4 separate regions of the Homo sapiens genome follow, and regions 1, 2 and 4 are each linked to region 3. The links come from fine-mapping of genetic effects on gene expression. A gene starts in region 3. Each other region holds a variant in brackets. All regions are shown on one strand. Distances are from middle to middle.

What was found. PIP is the estimated chance that this variant, and not a neighbour inherited with it, causes the effect. A credible set is the group of variants that fine-mapping cannot tell apart.
Region 1: its variant is fine-mapped to the expression of SERINC2 in whole blood (INTERVAL, PIP 0.93).
Region 2: its variant is the best candidate, but not a certain one, in a credible set for the expression of SERINC2 in whole blood (INTERVAL, PIP 0.87).
Region 4: its variant is the best candidate, but not a certain one, in a credible set for the expression of SERINC2 in whole blood (INTERVAL, PIP 0.70).

The regions. Positions count from the first base shown.
Region 1 is chr1:31,467,053-31,472,080 of GRCh38, forward strand. It overlaps LOC124903900 (a long non-coding RNA gene), which reads right to left and starts at 4,424. Exons shown (of 2, transcript XR_007065585.1): 1 at 4,014-4,424. LOC105379772 (a long non-coding RNA gene) reads left to right here and starts at 4,066. Exons shown (of 3, transcript XR_001737618.2): 1 at 4,066-4,182. RefSeq lists an enhancer at 3,710-4,909. The variant T/G (reference allele first, on the strand shown) is at 2,440.
Region 2 is chr1:31,446,846-31,451,873 of GRCh38, forward strand. All of the region lies in intron 1 of LOC124903900 (a long non-coding RNA gene), which reads right to left. It overlaps LOC105378625 (a long non-coding RNA gene), which reads left to right. Exons shown (of 4, transcript XR_007065578.1): 1 at 1-1,616; 2 at 1,699-1,882; 3 at 2,056-2,611; 4 at 2,708-3,804. Among named protein-coding and RNA genes, the nearest start is that of SERINC2, 36 kb to the left of the region's middle. The variant C/CT (reference allele first, on the strand shown) is at 2,690.
Region 3 is chr1:31,410,126-31,415,153 of GRCh38, forward strand. SERINC2 (serine incorporator 2) reads left to right here and starts at 3,088. Exons shown (of 10, transcript NM_178865.5): 1 at 3,088-3,179. The coding sequence starts at 3,141. RefSeq lists enhancers at 2,836-3,336, 4,607-5,028 and silencers at 2,903-2,972, 3,053-3,112.
Region 4 is chr1:31,495,420-31,500,447 of GRCh38, forward strand. It overlaps the pseudogene RNU6-40P and the pseudogene LDC1P. Among named protein-coding and RNA genes, the nearest start is that of LINC01226, 21 kb to the right of the region's middle. The variant A/G (reference allele first, on the strand shown) is at 2,564.

The sequences.
Region 1 (5,028 bases), 57 kb after region 3:
TTTTAAGTTTTTAGCCAATCAGGTTTAGCTTAGACTGTGAGGTCCAGCTCCAACCAATGGAGATAGGACACAGCAGTAAGGACCCAATAAGGGATAAATATTCCTGCCTTTCTTTATTCAGTGTGCTTTCATGGCGAGATTGCTGATGAGTAGCATCCTTTCTGGAGAAAGTAAAATTGCCTTGCTGAGAATTTTTTTTTGTCTGAATGCTGGTTTTCCTTGCGGCACTGAGAAATAAGCATTTACTTCTAACAGCAAACTTTACTTTTGTGGAAAATCTTGTAAATTTGGGATTTTAATTAAAGAAAGGCTTTTCTGGTGTCCAGGGACATGGACAACAGCTATTTCTTTTGACAACTTAAGGTTATTTAATACTTGGGTGATTAATTCCTTGTGGACCAGGTCTTCACCTTTGCTATTAATAAGACCTCGTTCAGTCCAGCTGTTTCCAAATGTATGAGTCACTCCAAAGGCATACTTAGAATCAGTATAGATGGTCCTTCCTGGTTCTGTAAGTACTTTAAGGCTTGGCTGAGTGCAAACAGCTCACACATTGGAGCAGACCAATTATTAGGCAATTTTCCTAGCTCTATTTCTATGAGAGTTTCTCTGTTAATTACCGAATACCCATTGTGTCTTTTTCCCTCAATTACCCAGGAGGAACCATCTATAAATAAGTGTCGTCCTGTCCTGAAGGGAGTTTCTCCTAGGTCTGGTCAGACCTTTGTATGGTAATTAATTAAGATTTAGATCCCCTGTTAGGAAACCTGCTGGGTTAAGCAAATTATCAGTGGTGAATGTTAAATCATCTTTTTCTTACAGAATAGCCTCATACTTTAAGATTCTTGAGTCAGTAAGCTACATTTTTGCTTTTTGACTTAGCATAGTTCTGACCTGGTGAGGTGTGCTCACAATGAGGTTTCCTCTAAAAGTTAGTTTTCTACTTTATTCTCTTAGCAAAGCAGTTGCTGCTACAGACTGAATGCATTTGGGCCATCCACAGTTTACTGGGTTAAGGATTTTTCATAGGAAGGGTACAGGTTGTCAGTGGCCTCTGTGCTTTTGGGTATTTCTAAGGCTATGCCCTTGTTTACACTGACAAAAAGATGGAATGGCTGCTTAAGGAGGGTAAAGCTAGGATGGGGCAGTTACTAATAGATGTTTTTGCTTTGTTTTGTTTTTGAGACAGAGTCTTGCTCTGTCGCGCAGGCTGGAGTGCAGTGGCGTGATCTTGGTTCACTGCAAGCTCTGCCTCCCGGGTTCACACCATTCTCCTGCCTCAGCCTCCTGAGTAGCTGGGACTACAGGTGCCCGCCACCACGCATGGCTAATTTTTTGTATTTTTGGTAGAGACGGGGTTTCATCGTGTTAGACAGGATGATCTCAATCTCCTGACCTCATGATCCACCCGCCTCGGCCTCCCAAAGTGCTGGGATTACAGGCATGAGCCACCGTGCCCGGCCACTAATAGATGTTTTAACCTTTCCACCTGTTGGATTTCTGGTAATTGCCAAATGAGAGGGTTTGGCCCATCTTGCATGAGCTTTCTGTATAGGGTTTTGTTTTTAGGGCATAAGAATCTATCCATAGATGACAGTACCCAACTAATCCTAAAATGTTTTAAGTTCTTGTTTAGTCTCCAGCAGAGGGAAGGATATTATGCCTTCAATCCGTTCAAGCTCAATTTTCTGTTTATCTTTGCTAATTAAGTGACTTGTTCTAATATTTGACTAAATAAATTTGGAGACTCCGTAAACCCTTGGGGTAAGACTATCAGTATTGCTATTTTCAACCAGAGTGAGGGTCTTCTTATTCAAAGGCAAATAGGTCCCAGCTGTCTCTGCTAATGGACAAGCCCAGAAAGCATCTTTTAAATCTATTACTGTAAACCACTGGTGACTGTAATAGTATAAGGATTGGGAACAATAGGGTGGGTAGTTTGGATTATTTGATTAATAGCTCCAAGGTCTTGCACTAACTGGTATGACACGTCTGGCTTCTTTTTTTTTGATACAGAGTCTCACTCTATCACCCAGGCTGGAGTGCAGTGGCGCAATCTCAGCTCACTGCAAGCTCCGCTTCCCAGGTTCACACCATTCTCCTGCCTCAGCCTCCCGAGTAGCTGGGACCACAGGCACCTGCCACCACGCCCAGCTCGTTTTTTGTATTTTTAGTAGAGACGGGGTTTCACTGTGTTAGCCAGGATGGTCTCAATCTCCTGACCTTGTAATCCACGTGCCTTGGCCTCCAAAAGTGCTGGGATTACAGGTGTGAGCCACTGCGCCTGGCCCCCATCTGGCTTCTTTACAGGCAATATTGGAGTGTTATAGGGAGACACACAGGGTTTAAGAAGCCCAACACCAAGACGACCTTCAATTATCAATTATAGGTCTTAAATTTACCCTAGTTTTCAAAGAAATAGGGTACATTGCTTTCTCT[T/G]TACTACTTCCCCAGGTGTTTTTAATAGTTTTTTTTTTTAATTTAACATGAATTGGAGGAATCTGTAACTTTCCTTGCTTCCCATCTTTTGCTGTGGTGGTAAGTTTAGGGAAAGGAGGAATTTTCTATGATTGATTTCGAGGCCTAAGCCTAATTTTAGCATTAAATCTCTTCCTTATAGATTTGTCCCTGCTTCCAGAATTAGCAGAAAGTTAATATTAGCTGATTTGCTTTTACATATGACTTTATTCTTTTTCCCACTTGGGACATTCTTTTTTGAAGTGACCTATTTTTAATTTGAAGCATTTGTTTTGTCCTCTTTCCCTTTTCCTCTCCCTATCTCTCTCTCTCTCTCTCTGAATTCCTCTGTCTCTTTCCCTCTCTCTCTGACTTCCTCTGTCTCTTTCCCTCTCTCTCTCTCTGACTTCCTCTGTCCCCTCTGTCAGTCTTTCTCTCGCCTCTAAGATTTTTTTCTCTACCTTTGAGTCTCCTGGCTTTACTCTTTTGTACCCTTTATGTTGCCTGGAGAGTGGGGGTCTAGGTTCTTTATAGGTTCTTGCCCCCTGGGTACTTTGTTGTATGGTGGACAGCAGAATTTTTGCCCTCTGCTTTTGTTTTTCTTCATCTCTTCCTACATATACTTTTTGGGCTTCTCTTAGAAGCTCTTCTATAGGTTTATCTTTCTAGTTCCCTATCTTTTGTAATTTCTTGTTAATATCTGGCCAACTGTTAGTGACAAAATGAAGTTTTAACATTCCCTGTCCAAGGGGATCCTCGAGACCTGGACCAGTATATTTTCTCATTTATTCCTTTAATCTGTCTAAAAATTCTATAGGCCCTTAATCTTTCCCTTGCTGTATATCAAATGTTTGGGTAAGATTCTGGGTTCGGGGTACTGATTCTTTAATCCCCTTTATTATCAATTCCTTAAGGTCTTGCATATTTTCTTGGTTGGCTGCATTGTTATTGTCCCACCAGGGGTCTTGGGTGGGAAATTTTTGATCCGCTGTAGGAACGTTTTGGCCGGAAGCCGGGGGCGGGGTGTTCATGGTTCCTAGGCTCCCATTGCAGCCCTATGGATCATGCCTCTTTCTTCCCCTGAGAAGAGGGGAAAGGGAAGTTCTGAATATCCTTTTTACATTGCTCTATCTCGTGTGAAGTCCTTTTAGGGAAGGGTACTCAGGCTGGTCGTGAGTGGGCTCTTGGGAACATTCCCAAGAGGCAGAATTATAAGGAGAGGGACAACAGGGATAGGAGAAGGGTCTGGGACAGCAGCTGCTTTTTCTTGTTTTTGGTCCTTTCATTACCCTTCTAATATTTTATCATTAGGCTGAGCGGATTATTAGGGGGAATATTATCATTGCTAGTGTATCCTTTTTATCCCTTACCTTACTTGGGGTATTTCCCATTTTTAGTGTGAGGCTCAATTCCCCTTGCTAGAAATGTCTTGCCTATTTTTAACCCTCAAGATACCCCAACCAGGGAATACTTCACCGCCCCACCTCCTCCGTGTCTTTTCTTACCTTGATATGTCCTGATCAAGGAATACCACCACCCCCTGTGGCTTCTCTTACCTTGGTCTGTCCCAACCACCAAGGAAATACTTTGCTGGCTCCCAGGCGTTTCCTTCCTCGGTCTGTGCACAGAGTTGCCTGGTCACTGTGGTGTGTGAGGATCCTTTCCCCTGGGTCGCCGGCTGGTTTCTTTCGACATTGCTGAGTCCAGGTTTATTTGTCACACCAGGTGAGTCTCGATTCCTGACTCTTGAGGCCACCGCAACAAGGCAGTGGGGCGTGAGAGAGGAATAGAGGCCACCCCTAGAGGAGAATAGCTCCCCATATGGGCCACGAGATTGTTAGAAACAAATGCCTGTTCCTTGGTGCTGCAGAGAAATAGCACTTGAACATAAATTTAATTTTCTCAGCCAGGTAATTTTTACTTCTATAGAAGGGTGCGACTCGTGGTTGGAGTAATGGCGAAAGCACACCTGAACAAGGGGAGGGAAGCGGTTCGTATTCCTGGTGCAGGTAGTCCCTGCTGTTGTGTCATTCCCCTATTGGCTAGGATTGGACCGCACAGTGTAAGCTAATTCCGATTGGCTATTTTAAAGAGAGCAGGGGTACAAGCTGGAGTGACAGGGTGAGAAGTTTGGCGGGAGGGGTGGTTACAGAACAGTTGACTCAGGATGATTCAGGTCAGAGCAGGTGACAGGGGTGACTCAAGATGGAGCAGGTGACCAGGGGTGACTCAGGACAAAGCAGGTGACCAGGGGAACAGATGTGAACTACTGATTAGAACTGGCAGGAAACTTGTTTACTGAAACTAGAGGCAAGCGGGGCAATAGAACCAGGAAGTTAGACTTTAAAATGGAGAATAAAGAGAGCTGAACATACTGACATAGTGATTCTTTGAAAAGAAACTTGGAGTTCACGATCTTTAACAAGAATATCTAGTTCTTCCTGATTTAAGCCAGGAGGGTTGTATCTTTCCAGGAATTTATGCATCTCTGCTAGGTTTTCTAGTTTATGTGTGTAAAGGTGTTCATAGTAGCCTTGAATGAGTTTTTGTATTTCTGTGGTGTTGGTTGTA
Region 2 (5,028 bases), 37 kb after region 3:
TGTGTTTGTGAATGTGTGGATGTCTCACACGGAAATCAGGCTACACCATGCCAGTGGCTGCTCAGAGAGGTGCAAGGGAGGACACTGTGACCTCCTTCACCCTGACTCTCCCCTGAGCAGAAAACCAGAATGTCCACTAGGCAGGTCTCTTCCTGAATTGGACCACAACAACAAAATCTTAACTTGGCTTGTGCCTAGGACAGATCAGCCTGAGCCACGCCCTCATCTTACTATACTTACAAGGCTTTTCTGTTCAGATCACCTAGGAACATCTGAATAAGATGCCACCCCCACTGAGAGTCTTTAGAACTTTCAGTAACCAAGGCAGGACAACTCATCTACTCCCTAGTAGGATCTGAACCCTGAAGTGCAATAGTAACCACAGGCGAGTAATGGGACTTTGGACAAATTTCTCAAACAAAGGAGACTCAGTTTCCTGATCTGTAAAATGGCAATGATAGTGCCTTTTTCATTCCTTCATTCATTCATCCACTAGCGGTGCGTCACACACCTATTCTATAGCAGGCCTTGTTTACACAAGGATCAGCAGCAGATGTCACACTTGCCATTAGGGGGCTGAGATCTGGTGGAGGAGGTGGACGTAAATCCAGTAGCCACACAAACGTGTACGTTGTAAATGTGTCAAGGGCCATGATAGAAAGATAGCCAATGTCACGCACTTCCGTTAGGGGTGAGCCGAGGTCCAAAGCAGGGGTATAGAAGTATCTTGTGATTTTAATCTGCATCTCCTTCATGACCACTGACGTTGGACACTGTTTCATATGCTTATTGGACTACTGAATATCCTTTTTTGCTGTGTGTAAAGTGCCTATTTAACTCTTTAGCCCATTTTTAAATTGGGAGGTTTTTTCCCTGCTGATTTGTAGCAGATACATGGGAAGTGAGTCCTTGGTGGATATATATTTTGCAAATATCTTCTCATAATCTCTGTCTTATCTTTTCACCCTCTTAATGTTGTCTTCTGATGAACAGTGATTCTTAATTTCAAAGAAGTCTAATTTTTAACATTTTCTTTAGTTTTTAAAATTATTTATTATTATTATTATTATTTTTGAGATGGAGTTTCACTCTTGTTGCCCAGGCTGGAGTGCAATGGCACGATCTTGGCTCACTGAAACCTCTGCCTCCCAGGTTCAAGCAATTCTCTTGCCTCAGCCTCCCAAGTAGCTGAGATTACAGGCACGTGCCACCACACCCAGCTAAATTTTATATTTTTACTAGAGTCGGGGTTTCACCATGTTGGCCAGACTGATCTTGAACTCCTGACCGCAGGTGATCTGCCCGCCTTGGCCTCCCAAAGCACTGGGATTACAGGCGTGAGCCACCGCACCTGGACTAAATCTTTTCTTTTATGACGCTTATTTTGCCTTTATTAAGAAAATTTTGCCCCCTCCAAGGTCGGATATTATTTTATTTTTTCTTCTGGAATCTTTATTGTTTTGTTTTTACGTTTAGGGATATGATTATGATGTATCTCATTACTTCTTGTTATAGTGTGAAGTAGAAATCAAAGTCCATGTTTTTCCATATCGACCCAGCGCTACTTACGGAAAAGACAATCCCTTCCCTCCCACAGGAGAACTGTCATCAATCAGGTAGTTGTATATGTATTACTGTGTCTGGGCTCTCTGTTCTGGTTATTGGAGGATTTTAAATGAGCCTCAGATTTTCCTTCAGAAATGCTCACTCTGGATGCATTGTGGACGATGGATTGGTGGCGGAGTGGATCCAGGGGAATGTGTAGAAGAATATTGGCAAACCAAGAGGAGATGATGGTGGCCTGGATGAGGGTAGTGGTCGTGGAGGAAGAGGATGGAGGTGAAATCAACAGGGCTTGGTGATGGATTGGAAATGAGTGGAGGTAAGCTGGTGAAAGGGAATGTCAACAGTTTATCCAATGGTGTGGCTTTGGAAGGTTAAATGGTGGTGTCATACAACATGATCCACATTAGCTGGTTTAGGTAGAAAGGAGTTTATTAGGGTGTTAAATAATTAAACATGTGTTTTTGGCTCATGGCTTTGTGTATCATTTAGGATGCTTTGAACTATAGCCAACAGAAAGCCCTATTCAAACTGGTTTAAAAAAATAAAGACTTCACCAAAGGCTGAAGAAACAGACTTTGAGTTGAAGTTTCAGGAATAACTCCCGGGACTAGGTCATCAAGAAAACTGCTGTAATCAGAAAGCCACCGGCTCCAGAATGCATCACAGCTACCACCAGGGAGCCGCCATTATCAGGAGGCTGCTACTAATGTGCCACACCATCACACCACGCCTGCCACAGTCCTTGGCAGCAGAATAAATGCGTGTTCATGTCTTATTCTTGATGTCCACTAAGCTAGGAAAACCACATCTTTACCAACTGTACGACAGAAAAACCAGATGTCTTCACAACTGTGTTGTTAGCAGAAATGGCAAAAACAACAGGAAGATGGCCTTCACCTTCCTTCCATTTTCTACATCTTGTGTGACTGAATCTGATTGGCTGAGTCTTAATTGTCAGAGTCCTGGCTGCCAGGGACCCTGGCATAGCATGCTAGAAGGAGGTGCTGACCCAATGTATCCATCACATCACATCAAACCACACAAAGTATGGTGATATTATGTTCTTTTCTGTCTTTCTTACTGGATGGAGTGGGTTCCAGGAGGGCAGAGTTCTATTAACCTT[C/CT]TTTTTTTTTTTTTTAAGACAGAGTCTCGCTGTGTCACCAGGCTGGAGTGCAGTGGCATGATCTTGGCATCTTGGCTCACTGCAACCTCAACTTCCCAGGTTGGAGCAATTCTCCTGCCTCAGCCTCCTGAGTAGCTGGGACTACAGGTGTGCACCACGGCACCTGGCTAATTTTTGTATTTTCATGTTGGCCAGGCTGGTCTCTAACTCTTGACCTCAAGTGATCTACCCACCTTGGCCTCCCAAAGTGCTGGGATTACAGGCACGAGCTACTGCATCTGGCCTCTATTAACCTTTGAGTCTGTCTAATGACTTGGTATAGTGTAGGTGCTGATTAAATGTTTGTTGTATGGATTGATTAAACATGTGTTTTGGCTCATGACCTTGTGTATCACTTAGGACGCTTTGAAGTATAGCCAACAGAAAGCCCAATTCAAAGTGCTTTAAAAAGTAAAGAAAATTTATTGATTCGTGTGACTAAGAAGGTCAGAGGTAGGTCTGGCATCAGATGAGACTTGATTAAGCTGTTTGACAGTGTCACCAAGAGCCTGATTTCTTGTCATCTCCCTGTTCTGACATCTCTGATGTTGGCTTTATTTTTCCTCTTCTTAATTTCAAATGCAAGACTTTATGACTAAACCTATAGACTTATAACAAACACCACATACCACATATGATTCTTCATAATAATCACTACCACTAGTTGAGTGACTTCTAAGTTTCAGACACTGTGATAAGCTCTTTATGTGACATGTCTCATTAAATCCTCACATAATTCTGTTAAGTACGTACTATACAATTTTCTCTTTTATAGGCAAGGGAACTGAGGCTTTAAAGAATATTCATTATTACAAAATGCCAGTGTTTTATCAGGCTTCAGTTCCTCCTTACAGAGGAAGCTACCCAGGAGAGCTAATGTGTCTATTATACATGTTCATTCATTCACTCATTCATTTTTTTGACAAGTATTTCTTTTTTTTTTCTTTTAGTTTTTCATTTCCATAGGTTTTTGGGGAGCAGGTAGTATTTGGTTACATGAGCAAGTTCTTTCGTGGTGATTTGTGAGATTTTGGTGCACCCATACGTAACCTGAGCAGTATACGCTGAATTTAATTTGTAGTCTTTTATCCCTCACCCACTTCCTACACTTTCCCACTGAGTCCCCAAAGTCCTTGTGTCATTCTTCTGCCTTTGCATCCTCACAGCTTAGCTCCCACTTATGAGTGAGAACACACGATGTTTGGTTTTCCGTTCCTGAGTTACTTCACTTAGAATAATAGTCTCCAATCCCATCCAGGTTGCTGTGAATGCCATTAATTCATTCCTATATGGCTGAGTAGTATTCCGTCATATATATATACCACAGTTTCTTTATCCACTCATTGATTGGTGGGCATTTGGGTAGGTTCCACATTTTTGCAACTGTGCTGCTATAAACATACGTGTGCAAGTTATCTGTTTCATAGAATGATTTCTTTTCCTCTGGGTAGATACCCAGTTGTGGGATTGCTGGATCAAATGGTAGTTCTACTTTCAGTTCTTTAAGAAATCTCCACACTGTTTTCTATAGTGGTTGTACTAGTTTCCATTACCATCAGCAATGTAGAAGTGTTTACTTTTCACTGCATCCACACCAACAACTGTTATTTTTTTATTATGGCCATTCTTGCAGAAGTAAGGTGGTATTGCATTGTGGTTTTGATTTGCATTTCCCTGATCATTAGTGTTCTTGAGCATTTTTTCATATGTTTGTTGGCCATTTGCATATCTTCTTTTAAGAATTGTCTATTCATGTCCTTATCCCACTTTTTGATGGGATTGTTTGCTTTTTTCTTGCTAATTTGTTTGAGTTTGTTGTAGATTCTGGGTATTAGTCCTTTGTCAGATGTATAGATTGTAAAGATTTTCTCTCACTCTGTGGGTTGTCTGTTAACTCTGTTGACTGTTCCTCTTGCTGTTCTAAAGCTCTTTCATTTAATTAAGTCCAACCTATTTATCATTGTTTTTATAGCATTTGCTTTGGGGTTCTTGGTCATTAAATCCTTGCCTAAGCCAATGTCTACAAAGATTTTTTCTGACGTTATCTTCTAGAATATTCATAATTTCAGGTTTTAGATTTAACTCCTTGATCTATCTTGAGTTGATTTTTGTATAAGGTGAGAGATAAGGATCCAGTTTCTTTCTCCTACCTGTGGCTTGCCAATTATCCCAGCATCATTTGTTGAATAGAGGGTCCTTTCCTCACTTTTTGCTTTTGTTTGCTTTGTTGAAGATCAGTTGGTTGTAAGTATTTGGGTTTATTTCTGGGTTCTCTATTCTGTTCTATTGTCTAAGTGCCT
Region 3 (5,028 bases):
CTGAATTCCAACCCTCCAGTGAGGCTCAGAGTGGTTGGGTGACTTGCCAGTATCACATAGCTGCTGACTGTGACTGTGCTTTTGGGGGTGCAAGAGACAGAGCTACTCTGGCCCCATGCAGGAGGTTCAAATCTGGGAGTAAAGGCTGATGGGCTGGCCAGGACACCAAGAAATGAAGCTCTTTATCCATGTCCTCACTTCATCTCCTCAGTAGTCCCCTCAGATAGCTGGGGTAAAAAAACTTATCTTTATTTTACAGATGAGAAGCATGAGGCTGAGAGAGGAGGAGTCACCCGGACCCAGCCACACAGTGAGTTATGCCTTCCATGCTGGGCGTGTGAGAGCCCAGCCGGCCTTGGTCTTGGGCAGGCAGGAGGCCAGGACAGTGGCAGCATATTACCTTGCTCTGGAAAATTTTAGCCTGAAGTCAGAGTGGCTATCCCTTTACACATACAGTCATCTTAATCCCTCGTTCCTTGCAGATAACTGCTTATTTCTGAGAGTGTCTTTGCAGATGCTCACACATGCTCTGTGAGGTTAAACAGAATAACCCTACCTATTTCCGGGAAGGGGATGGACGGACACCCCTTGTGGGGTGAAGTGGCCCCCCAAGGATGGCATGGGGCATGGTCATCTGTGGCAGAACAAGAATCCCAGGGGTTGATCCTCTTGGTCTTGGGTGCTTTCTACTGTTCTAGGTCATGGATAGGGAGGGGTTGGGGGTGAAAAATTCAGCTCTTAGAGCAGAAGTGTCCAAGGGAGCTGACCCTGGGACGGGAGCATGTGAGGAGGGCTCACTTGAGACTGCTTGGTGGCATTTCAGTCTAAAGGATTTCCGTGCAGAAGATGACTGTGTAGGGTATGTTTTTGGATCAGACTGTCAGTCACAGAAGAAGGAGGAAAGTGGACTTATGGTAAAAGGTCAGACATTCATCCAGTAAGCATTCACTGCTTGACTGTGTGCCAGGCCCTGTACTGTGCTCTGGGTAGGAGAGGGGGTGGCCAGAGAGCAGACCGTTCTTGGGTGGCTCACAGTCCCCTAAAGGCCTCGGGTTAGGGAAGGACTGAAATATTGCTGGACAGAAAAATAGGAAGACTAGATATTGTCACCTCTACTTTTTCAAGGGAAGCAGTAGGACATCAGGGTGAAAGCCAGGCCAGGTTGCCTTTCAGCTCTGTTTCTTCTGAGCTGTGTGGCCTTCAGCAATAGTAACAACAACCACAGTGATCACAGTCAACGTTTATTCGACGCTTGATTTACATTTCGCGTGTCACTACTTCTTTGTTTCTCGGTTTCCTCATCTGTAAACGAGTGGGTGGGGAATTAATCGACTTCTCAGGGCTGTTGTGGGGCTCAAATGGTACCACGGGGGAAAGTTGGGCATGTGCTCGGGTTGTTTGTGAGGCCATAAGGGAGGCCCATATTGTTTGGAGGCTTGGGGGAATCAGGAGGATGTTCATTCCTAATGGAACCAGGTAGTGGGTTGGGGGTGAGGGTGGTGGCTCTCTTCACTGAGAGGTATGGCATGTGAGCAAGCTTCAAAGGGGAGAAAGAGGGATAAGGAGAAGGACCTTTAAGAGGAGGGCATCTGCCAGGTGCAGTGCCTCACATCTGTAATACCAGCACTTTGGGAGGCCAAGGCAGGAGGATTGCTTAAGCCCAGGAGTTCGAGACTAGCCTGGACAACATAAGGAGACCTCATCTCTACACAAAATTTTTAAAAAATTAGCTGGGTGTGGTAGTACACACTGGTGGTCACAGCTACTTGGGAGGCTGAGGTGGGAGGATCACTTGGGTCCAGGAGGTTGAAGCTGCAGTGAGCCATGATTGGGCCACTGTGTTCCAGCCTGGGTGACAGAGTGAGACCCTGTCTCAAAAAAAAAAAAAAAAAAAAAAAAAAAGAGGAGGGCATTGTGTGGGCAAAAGTGCGGAGGAGGAAAAGTATAGGGTGTGTTTGTGGAACAGTCCTGGTGCAATTAATGGCTAAGCCTGGCGCCCAGTGAATCAGCCAAGGATGCAGTCAACCAGCTCTTTGGCCCTGGGGCCAGCTTCGAGGCACAGAGACTTCTTTCCCTAACATTATCTTGTCCAGAGGTGGCTGAGGACAGGGCTAAGGGTGAAGGGAGACTAATTACAGAGCCCTACTTCTGGGTCTCTCACACCTACCCCTGGAAAGCCATCTGTCAGGAATGTGGCCGCCCCTCCCCACCTTCTGACCTCCTTAGCTAGGGACCAGTTTGGGCATCCCTAGGGAGTGATAAGCCACCAAGCAGGGGTGGCTGTAGGGAGTGTGTAGCTCCCAGCAGGCTGTTGGGAGTCAGTGGAGTTTGAAGAACAGATGGAGAGAAGGGAGGATGGGTTTAGAGTGAGAGGCTGGGGTCTTAGAAGAAGCAGTAGGTGGGCATGGTGGCATGCACCTGTAGTCCCAGCTACTCAGGAGCCTGAAGCAGGAGGATCACTTGAGCCCAGGAGGTCGAGGCTGCAGTGAGCTATGTTTGCACCACTGCACTCCAGCCTGGGTGACAGAGCAAGACCCTGTCTCTTAAAAAGGAAGAAGAAAACAGTGACGATGGGGGCTTACATTTGTCAAGCACCTACCATGTGTTGTAACCACCCTGTGAGGTATGTATCCTCACTTTACAGACCGGGAAACTGAGGCTCATAGAGGTGCAGTGACTTGCCGAAGTTTCTTTATCCAGTCATTCAGCATTCAACCTCAGCATCTACGTATTGAGCAGAGGCCCTGCGCCAAGCACTGAGGAGTCAGCGGTGACCACCTCTTGGCTTCTGTTCCCAAGGGTGACAGTGTCCTGGGGTCACACGGGCTCAAACCGAGGTCGATTTCCGAACGCTCACTTTGGAGCAGGATGCGAGCCCGGGCCACGATTGGGTCAGGTTGCGCCGCTCGCGTGGCCGCGGGAATCCCCGACCGGCCCCTTCCCTAGGGTCCCTCCTGGCGCACCTGCCCCAGGTGAGTCTGGGGAGGCCCCGAGCGCCGCCGGAAAGCGTCGAGCGGCTTCGGTAGGTGGGGCGGGGCCGGGGCGGGGCCGGGGCCGGGGAGGGGCCAGGCCCGGCACCCGGATCCCGAGGTCCGCGCCCCGCGCCCGGCGCCGGGCGCCCGAAGCCGGGAGCCGCCGCCATGGGGGCCTGCCTGGGAGCCTGCTCCCTGCTCAGCTGCGTGAGTCCCGACCCCGGCGCCCGCCCGCGCGCGCCGCCCGTTCCTGCTGCGGGCCCTCACTTTCTTCTGTTCTGCTCCGAGTAGTTTCTTCTTTTTCCTTCCTGCAAACTTGTCTTTCTGGGCCGGTGCCCCGCCTGCTCGCCCTCCTGGACCTTCACTCGGCACCCGGATCCCGCTGCCCCCGTCCCCCTGCTCAGTCCTGGCCGGCAGGCGCCGGGCAGCTGCGGTCCCGGCTCGGGTTTCCGCGGGCAGGAGGGGAGTGCCCTCGGCGGGCGCCCTCCTGGGACCTGGAGAGACTAAGCCTGGAGCCCGGGGTCGGGGCAGCTCTGTGGGCCCTCGTCGCCCCACTTGGGGCGGTCCTCGGGGTGGCCTCTGTCCCCGTCCCGGACGCCCTGGTTCTCTGTGTAGGTCGCCCGGGCCCCGTCCCTCCTGGCGAGTGCCCTGCCCTACCCCTCTGGCCGCCTGCCAGTCCGCCTGTTCCTGTCGCTCGGGCTCCGCCTGTCCGTTCGTATTTGTCTGGTTCCTGTCTGTGTCCGTCGTTCGTCCGACTGTCTTTGTCCGTCTGCTGTCTTCTGTCCGTCTGCCCGTCCGCCCGTCCGTCCCTCAGTCTCTCTGCGGTCCCTTTACCGTCCTCAGTCTGGCTCGCGCTGCCTCTCAGGCACTTCCCCAGCTCGCCCCGGATCATCTGGGCCCCAGCGCGGAGACTGGGATGGGAGCGGAGGGAGCCCCGGACTTTCTTAGCTGCCCTCGAGTGAGGCGGGTGCGGGTCGTCACGGACCACCGGGCGGAACTCTGGGTTGGGAGAGCAGGAATCGAGGGAGGTTCGGGTGTGCGCGGGGAGTGCCCGGTCGCGGGTTCGGGACCTGTGGGGAGGCCAACCTCTGTTCTGTAGCTGCAGCCGCAGAGGGGAGGGGCTCCAGCAAGACCCCGGCTGGGAGGCCCGTTCTCCCTTCCCTTTCCCCAGCCCCCCTCTCCTTTCCTCTTCCCCTCATTAAATCTGAGGTTCATTCAGGCAGCCCCCTCCCCCTCTGGCCCCACACAAAGAGGCCCTGAGAGGGAGAAGGGGCTGCAGCGGCTGCTGAATCTCGGGACTCGCTTTCCTTTGTCCCTGACGGGTTGTGTGTGTGTGTGTGTGTGTGTGTGTGTGTGTGAGAGAGAGAGAGAGAGAGAGGAGGGGGTGTAGGGGAGAGCTGAGGGTCTAGAGATTTACTTTACAGCCTTTTTCTGAGAATGAGATCAGCATAGACAGCACAGAGAGGCAAGAGAGCCTCTCGCCTCATTAGGCCTCCATTTTTCGTGTGTGTGTGTGCGTGTGCATGTGCGTGTGCAGGAGGAGGAATCAAGCTGGTGCCTGAAATCCCTCCCAGCCCAAAGAATTCAAGGTTTGGGCCAGGTCTCTGCCAACAAGGGTTTGCTTCCTGGTGAGGGAGGCAGAGCTTCCACAGTGGACCTGATTTCCATCGGTTGCACCTGGTGAGGCACAGGCCCTGCTGGGCTGGCCTGGGGGTGGAGATGTTGAGGGGCAGCCTGCCAGCCCTGTGTGCCTTGGTCACCCCATCTGGCAGTTGACAGTAACAGGGCCTTTCTCACAATGCTGTTGGGAGATGAGGCACAGTTCCTGGCATATCGTGAGTGCTCCTTGTGGGAATTATTGCTAACATCAAGGAAAGGTGGGTGGAGAATTCCATTTGGAGACAATGCAAAGCCAAGTGCTGGTCTCTGAGTTACAGCATTCTACAATGCTGAGAGCAGATAGGACTGCTCAAACCATCTGTTTACAGATGAGAAGACTGCCACCCGCCCGGAGAAGATAGCTGACTTTCCTAAGGTTGCACAGGGAAAGGATGAA
Region 4 (5,028 bases), 85 kb after region 3:
CTCTCATTGTTCAATTCCCACCTATGAGTGAGAACATGCGGTGCTTGGTTTTTCGTCTTTGCAATAGTTTGCTGAGAATGATGGTTTCCAGCTTCATCCATGTCCCTACAAAGGACATGAACTCATCCTTTTTTATGGCTGCATAGTATTCCATGGTGTATATGTGCCACATTTTCTTAATCCAGTCTATCATTGATGGACATTTAGGTTGGTTCCAAGTCTTTGCTGTTGTGAATAGTGCCACAATAAACATACGTGTGCATGTGTCTTTATAGCAGCATGATTTATAATACTTTGGGTATATACCCAGTAATGGGATGGCTGGGTCAAACCATATTTCTAGTTCTAGATCCTTGAGGAATTGCCACACTGTCTTCTACAATGGTTGAACTAGTTTACAGTCCCCCCAACAGTGTAAAAGTGTTCCTATTTCTCCACATCCTCTCCAGCACCTGTTGTTTCCTGACTTTTTAATGATCACCATTCTAACTGGTGTGAGATGGTATCTCATTGTGGTTTTGATTTGCATTTCTCTGATGGCCAGTGATGATGAGCATTTTTTCATGTGTCTGTTGCCTGCATAAATGTCTTCTTTTGAGAAGTATCTGTTCATATCCTTTGCCCACTTGTTGATGGGGTTGTTTGTTTTTTTCTTGTAAATTTGTTCGAGTTCTTTGTAGATTCTGGATATTAGCCCTTTTTCAGACGAGTAGATTGCAAAAATTTTCTCCCATTCTGTAGGTTGCCTGTTCATTCTGATGGTAGTTTCTTTTGCTGTGTAGAAGCTCTTTAGTTTAATTAGATCCCATTTGTCAATTTTGGCTTTTGTTGCCATTGCTTTTGGTGTTTTAGACATGAAGTCCTTGCCCATGCCTATGTCCTGAATGGTATTGCCTAGGTTTTCTTCTAGGGTTTTTATGGTTTTAGGTCTAACATTTAAGTCTTTAATCCATCTTGAATTAATTTTAGTATAAGGTGTAAGGAAGGGATCCAGTTTCAGCTTTCTACATATGGCTAGCCAGTTTTCCCAGCACCATTTATTAAATAGGAAATCCTTTCCCCATTTCTTGTTTTTGTCAGGTTTGTCAAAGATCAGATGGTTGTAGATGTGTGGTATTATTTCTGAGGACTCTGTTCTGTTCCATTGGTCTATATCTCTGTTTTGGTACCAGTACCATGCTATTTTGGTTACTGTAGCCTTGTAGTATAGTTTGAAGTCAGGTAGCGTGATGCCTCCAGCTTTGTTCTTTTGGCTTAGGATTGTCTTGGCAATGCAGGCTCTTTTTTGGTTCCATGTGAACTTTAAAGTAGTTTTTTCCAATTCTGTGAAGAAAGTCATTGGTAGCTTGATGGGGATGGCATTGAATCTATAAATTACCTTGGGCAGTATGGCCATTTTCACGATATTGATTTTTCCTATCCATGAACATGGAATGTTCTTCCATTTGTTTGTATCCTCTTTTATTTCATTGAGCAGTTGTTTGTAGTTCTCCTTGAAGAGGTCCTTCACATCCCTTGTAAGTTGGATTCCAAGGTATTTTATTCTCTTTGAAGCAATTGTAAATGGGAGTTCACTCATGATTTGGCTCTCTGTTTGTCTGTTATTGGTGTATAAGAATGCTTGTGATTTTTGCACATTGATTTTGTATCCTGAGACTTTGCTGAAGTTGCTTATCAGCTTAAGGAGATTTTGGGCTGAGACGATGGAGTTTTCTAAATATACAATCATGTCATGTGCAAACAGGGACAATTTGACTCCCTCTTTTCCTAATGAATACCCTTTATTTCTTCCTCCTGCCCGATTGCCCTGGCCAGAACTTCCAACACTATGTTGAATAAGAGTGGTGAGAGAGGGCGTCCCTGTCTTGTGCCAGTTTTCAAAGGGAGTGCTTCCAGTTTTTGCCCATTCAGTATGATATTGGCTGTGGGTTTGTCATAAATAGCTCTTATTATTTTGAGATATGTCCCATCAATACCTAATTTATTGAGAGTTTTTAGCATGAAAGGCTGTTGAATTTTGTCAAAGGCCTTTTCTGCATCTATTGAGATAATCATGTGGTTTTTGTCTTTGGTTCTGTTTATATGCTGGATTACTTTTATTGATTTGCATATGTTGAACCAGCCTTGCATCCGAGGGATGAAGCCCACTTGATCATTAAAAATATGGAACGCTTCACGAATTTGCGTGTCATCCCTGTGCAGGGGCCATGATAATCTTCTCTGTATCGTTCCAATTTTAGTGTATGTGCTGCCGAAGCGAGCACACAATCTGTTTTTTTAAACAACTTTGTTGAGATATGATTCATATACCATAAAATTTGACCTCTCAAAGCATACAATTCAGTGGTTTTTAGCATGTTTGCCAAGTCGAGCAGCCATCATCTCTATCTAATTGCAGAATATTTTCACCACCGCAGAAGGAAACCCTGTCCCCACTAGCAGGCCCTCCCCATTCCTCTCTCCCCTTTCCCCAGTCATAGGCAACCACAAATCTACTCTCTGTCTCTGTGGACTTGTATATTCTGGATATTTTATATAAATGGAATCATATGATCATATATAT[A/G]TTTATTTATTTAACTTTTTAAACCATTTCACTTTTATTCTATTGAGAAGTGAGGTTCCAAACAGACTTTACTTTCCAAACTGTTTACCTATTGTCCCAGCACCACTTCTCTGTCCCCTTCACCTTCTTTGGTGATTGGTGATATGTTCCAGTTTTTGCTATCAGCTCTGCTTCTGGGCCCTCAATTCTGCCCCATTGATGTTTCTGTTCAGGATACCTACAGGGTGTGAAGTCAGATAGGAGTTGATCTAAATCCCAGATCTCATATGTTAGCTGTGACATCCATTTATTAATTTATCCTACAAATATTTACTGAATTCTGTGCCAAGGCTTTTTTTTTTTTTTTTTTTGAGACATGGTATCTATTGCCCAGGCTGGAGTGCTGGAGTGAAGTGGCATGATCACAGCTCACTGCAGCCCCAACCTCCTGGGCTCAAGCCATCCTCCTGCTCAGTCTCCCAAGTAGCTGGGACCACAGGCGTGTGCCACCACAGCCAGCTAATTTTTGTATTTTTTTGTAGAGACAGGGTTTTGCCATGTTGCCCAGGCTGGTCTCCAACTACTGGGCTCAATCTATCCACCCACCTTGGCCTCCCGAAGTGTTGAGATTACAGGCATGAGTCACCACGCCCCGGCCCAAGTCTTAACCTAGGCACTGGGGACCCAGCAATGCAGATTTGGTCCCTGTTTTAAGCAGAGGGACCAATACAATCTGGCAGGGAAAGTTCCTATGGATAGAAACACAGACACAAACAGCAGCGGTGAGAGTGAGGCAGTTTGTATATATTTTCTTTTTATATCTTAATCTTCATAACTGGCCTTAAGGCCCCATTTTCCAGATGAAAAAACTGAGGTTCAGAGCAGTCAACTAACTTGCCTGTCGCAAATTCATTGCGAGTGGCACACCAGGCTTGGTAAGTGGTAAACAAGGCTGATGTCGAGCCCTTGGGATTAAGCCCTCTGCTATACCAAGGAGAAAGGGCCATAGAGGGCCAGTGAGCGAGAGGCAGGCCGGGAGAAAGGAAGAACAGCTGGTCCAAGGTCTCAGAACAGGTTCGTTTCTGGGGAAAGACCCCTATCTCTGCTGCCCCAGGCAGAAGAAGACTTGGGCCCTTTGAAAGGAAAATAAAGCCTCGGGATCCCCAAATCACTAAGCCAAGGGAAAAATCAGGCTGGGAACTATGTCAGGCAAACCCACCTCCCATTTTATTCCTAAATAAGATAGCTACATACCTCCCTCACAAACTGCCCACAAGAAAATTCGTTGTGGGCCTCAAGGTCTTTATCCTAAAACAGTTCTGTTGAATTTCACCCTGGCAATGTAAACTAATAGCTGATCTTCAGAGGTGCAGACAGAAAGTCATCCTTCTGCTCACCTGAGACAAATGCATATCTGATTGTTTCCTCTGCCCTATTGTTTACGTAAAAATGCAGATTCACTGAGTCAGATTAAATTGTGTATTCAGTGGAAGGCTGATCAAGGACTCAATGCAATCTTTCATCTCTTATCAACCTTTTGTCTCTTATGACCTGGAAGCACCCCTGCCGCCTTCAAGCTGTCCCACATTGCCAGACTGAACCAATGTACATCTTACACATATTGATTGATGTCTCCTGGCTCCCTATGAATCAAAGCAAGCTGTACCCCGACCACCTTAGGCACATGTCAGGACCTCCTGAGGCTGTGTGATGGGTGCATCCTTAAGCTTGACAAAATAAACTTTCTACATTGACTGAGATCTGTCTCAGATATTTGGGGTTCACAGCCCTGTCATCTCTGCCCTCCTCCCCACCTCCTGCCCTGGGCATGGCTGGCAGACAAAAACCTGGAGAGCAGCCCACTCCCTGTTGATTGTCCTTCACTGGAACAGGCAGAGGAGGTTCTGGGTCACAGCACAGAGGTGGGGTGTAAGCCTGCAGGAGATTACAGCTGATCCCTGCAGTGGGGCTGCCCCAAGGTGGTGGCTTCAGCCTGGGAGGGCCAGAAGAGCTCAGGTGAGACCTCAGCAGTCCACGTGGAGAGGGAGGGAGGGGAGAGGGTGGGGAGATGACTAGACCCTGAGTGACGCACACAGGCTCCCACTTCCATTCGAAGACACTTCCAGTGAGATGCTTAAATCTGCAGTGGAGGGCAAGAGACACGACCCCAGGAGACAGCAACTGGTCTCTGAGGCGGTGGAACCAGCTCCCTGTTGGAGTCTGAGGCCTTGGTCCTACTCCCAGTTTCACTCCTGGTTTGCTGAATGATCTGGAGATCTCTGGGCCCCACGGCTTTCCATCTGCAGAGCGGAAAGAGTGGATGGGAAGTTTCTAGGTTCCCTCCACTTCTCATCATTGCCGGCATTCGCTTATAACAGGGGTCGGACTCCTCTCTGTGCACCTGTCCTGCGGGCAGACCTAGGAAGGTACATTTTTCTGGCTGGGAGATTTGGGCTGAGCAGTCCAGGGTGGCCGAGGTTTAGAGG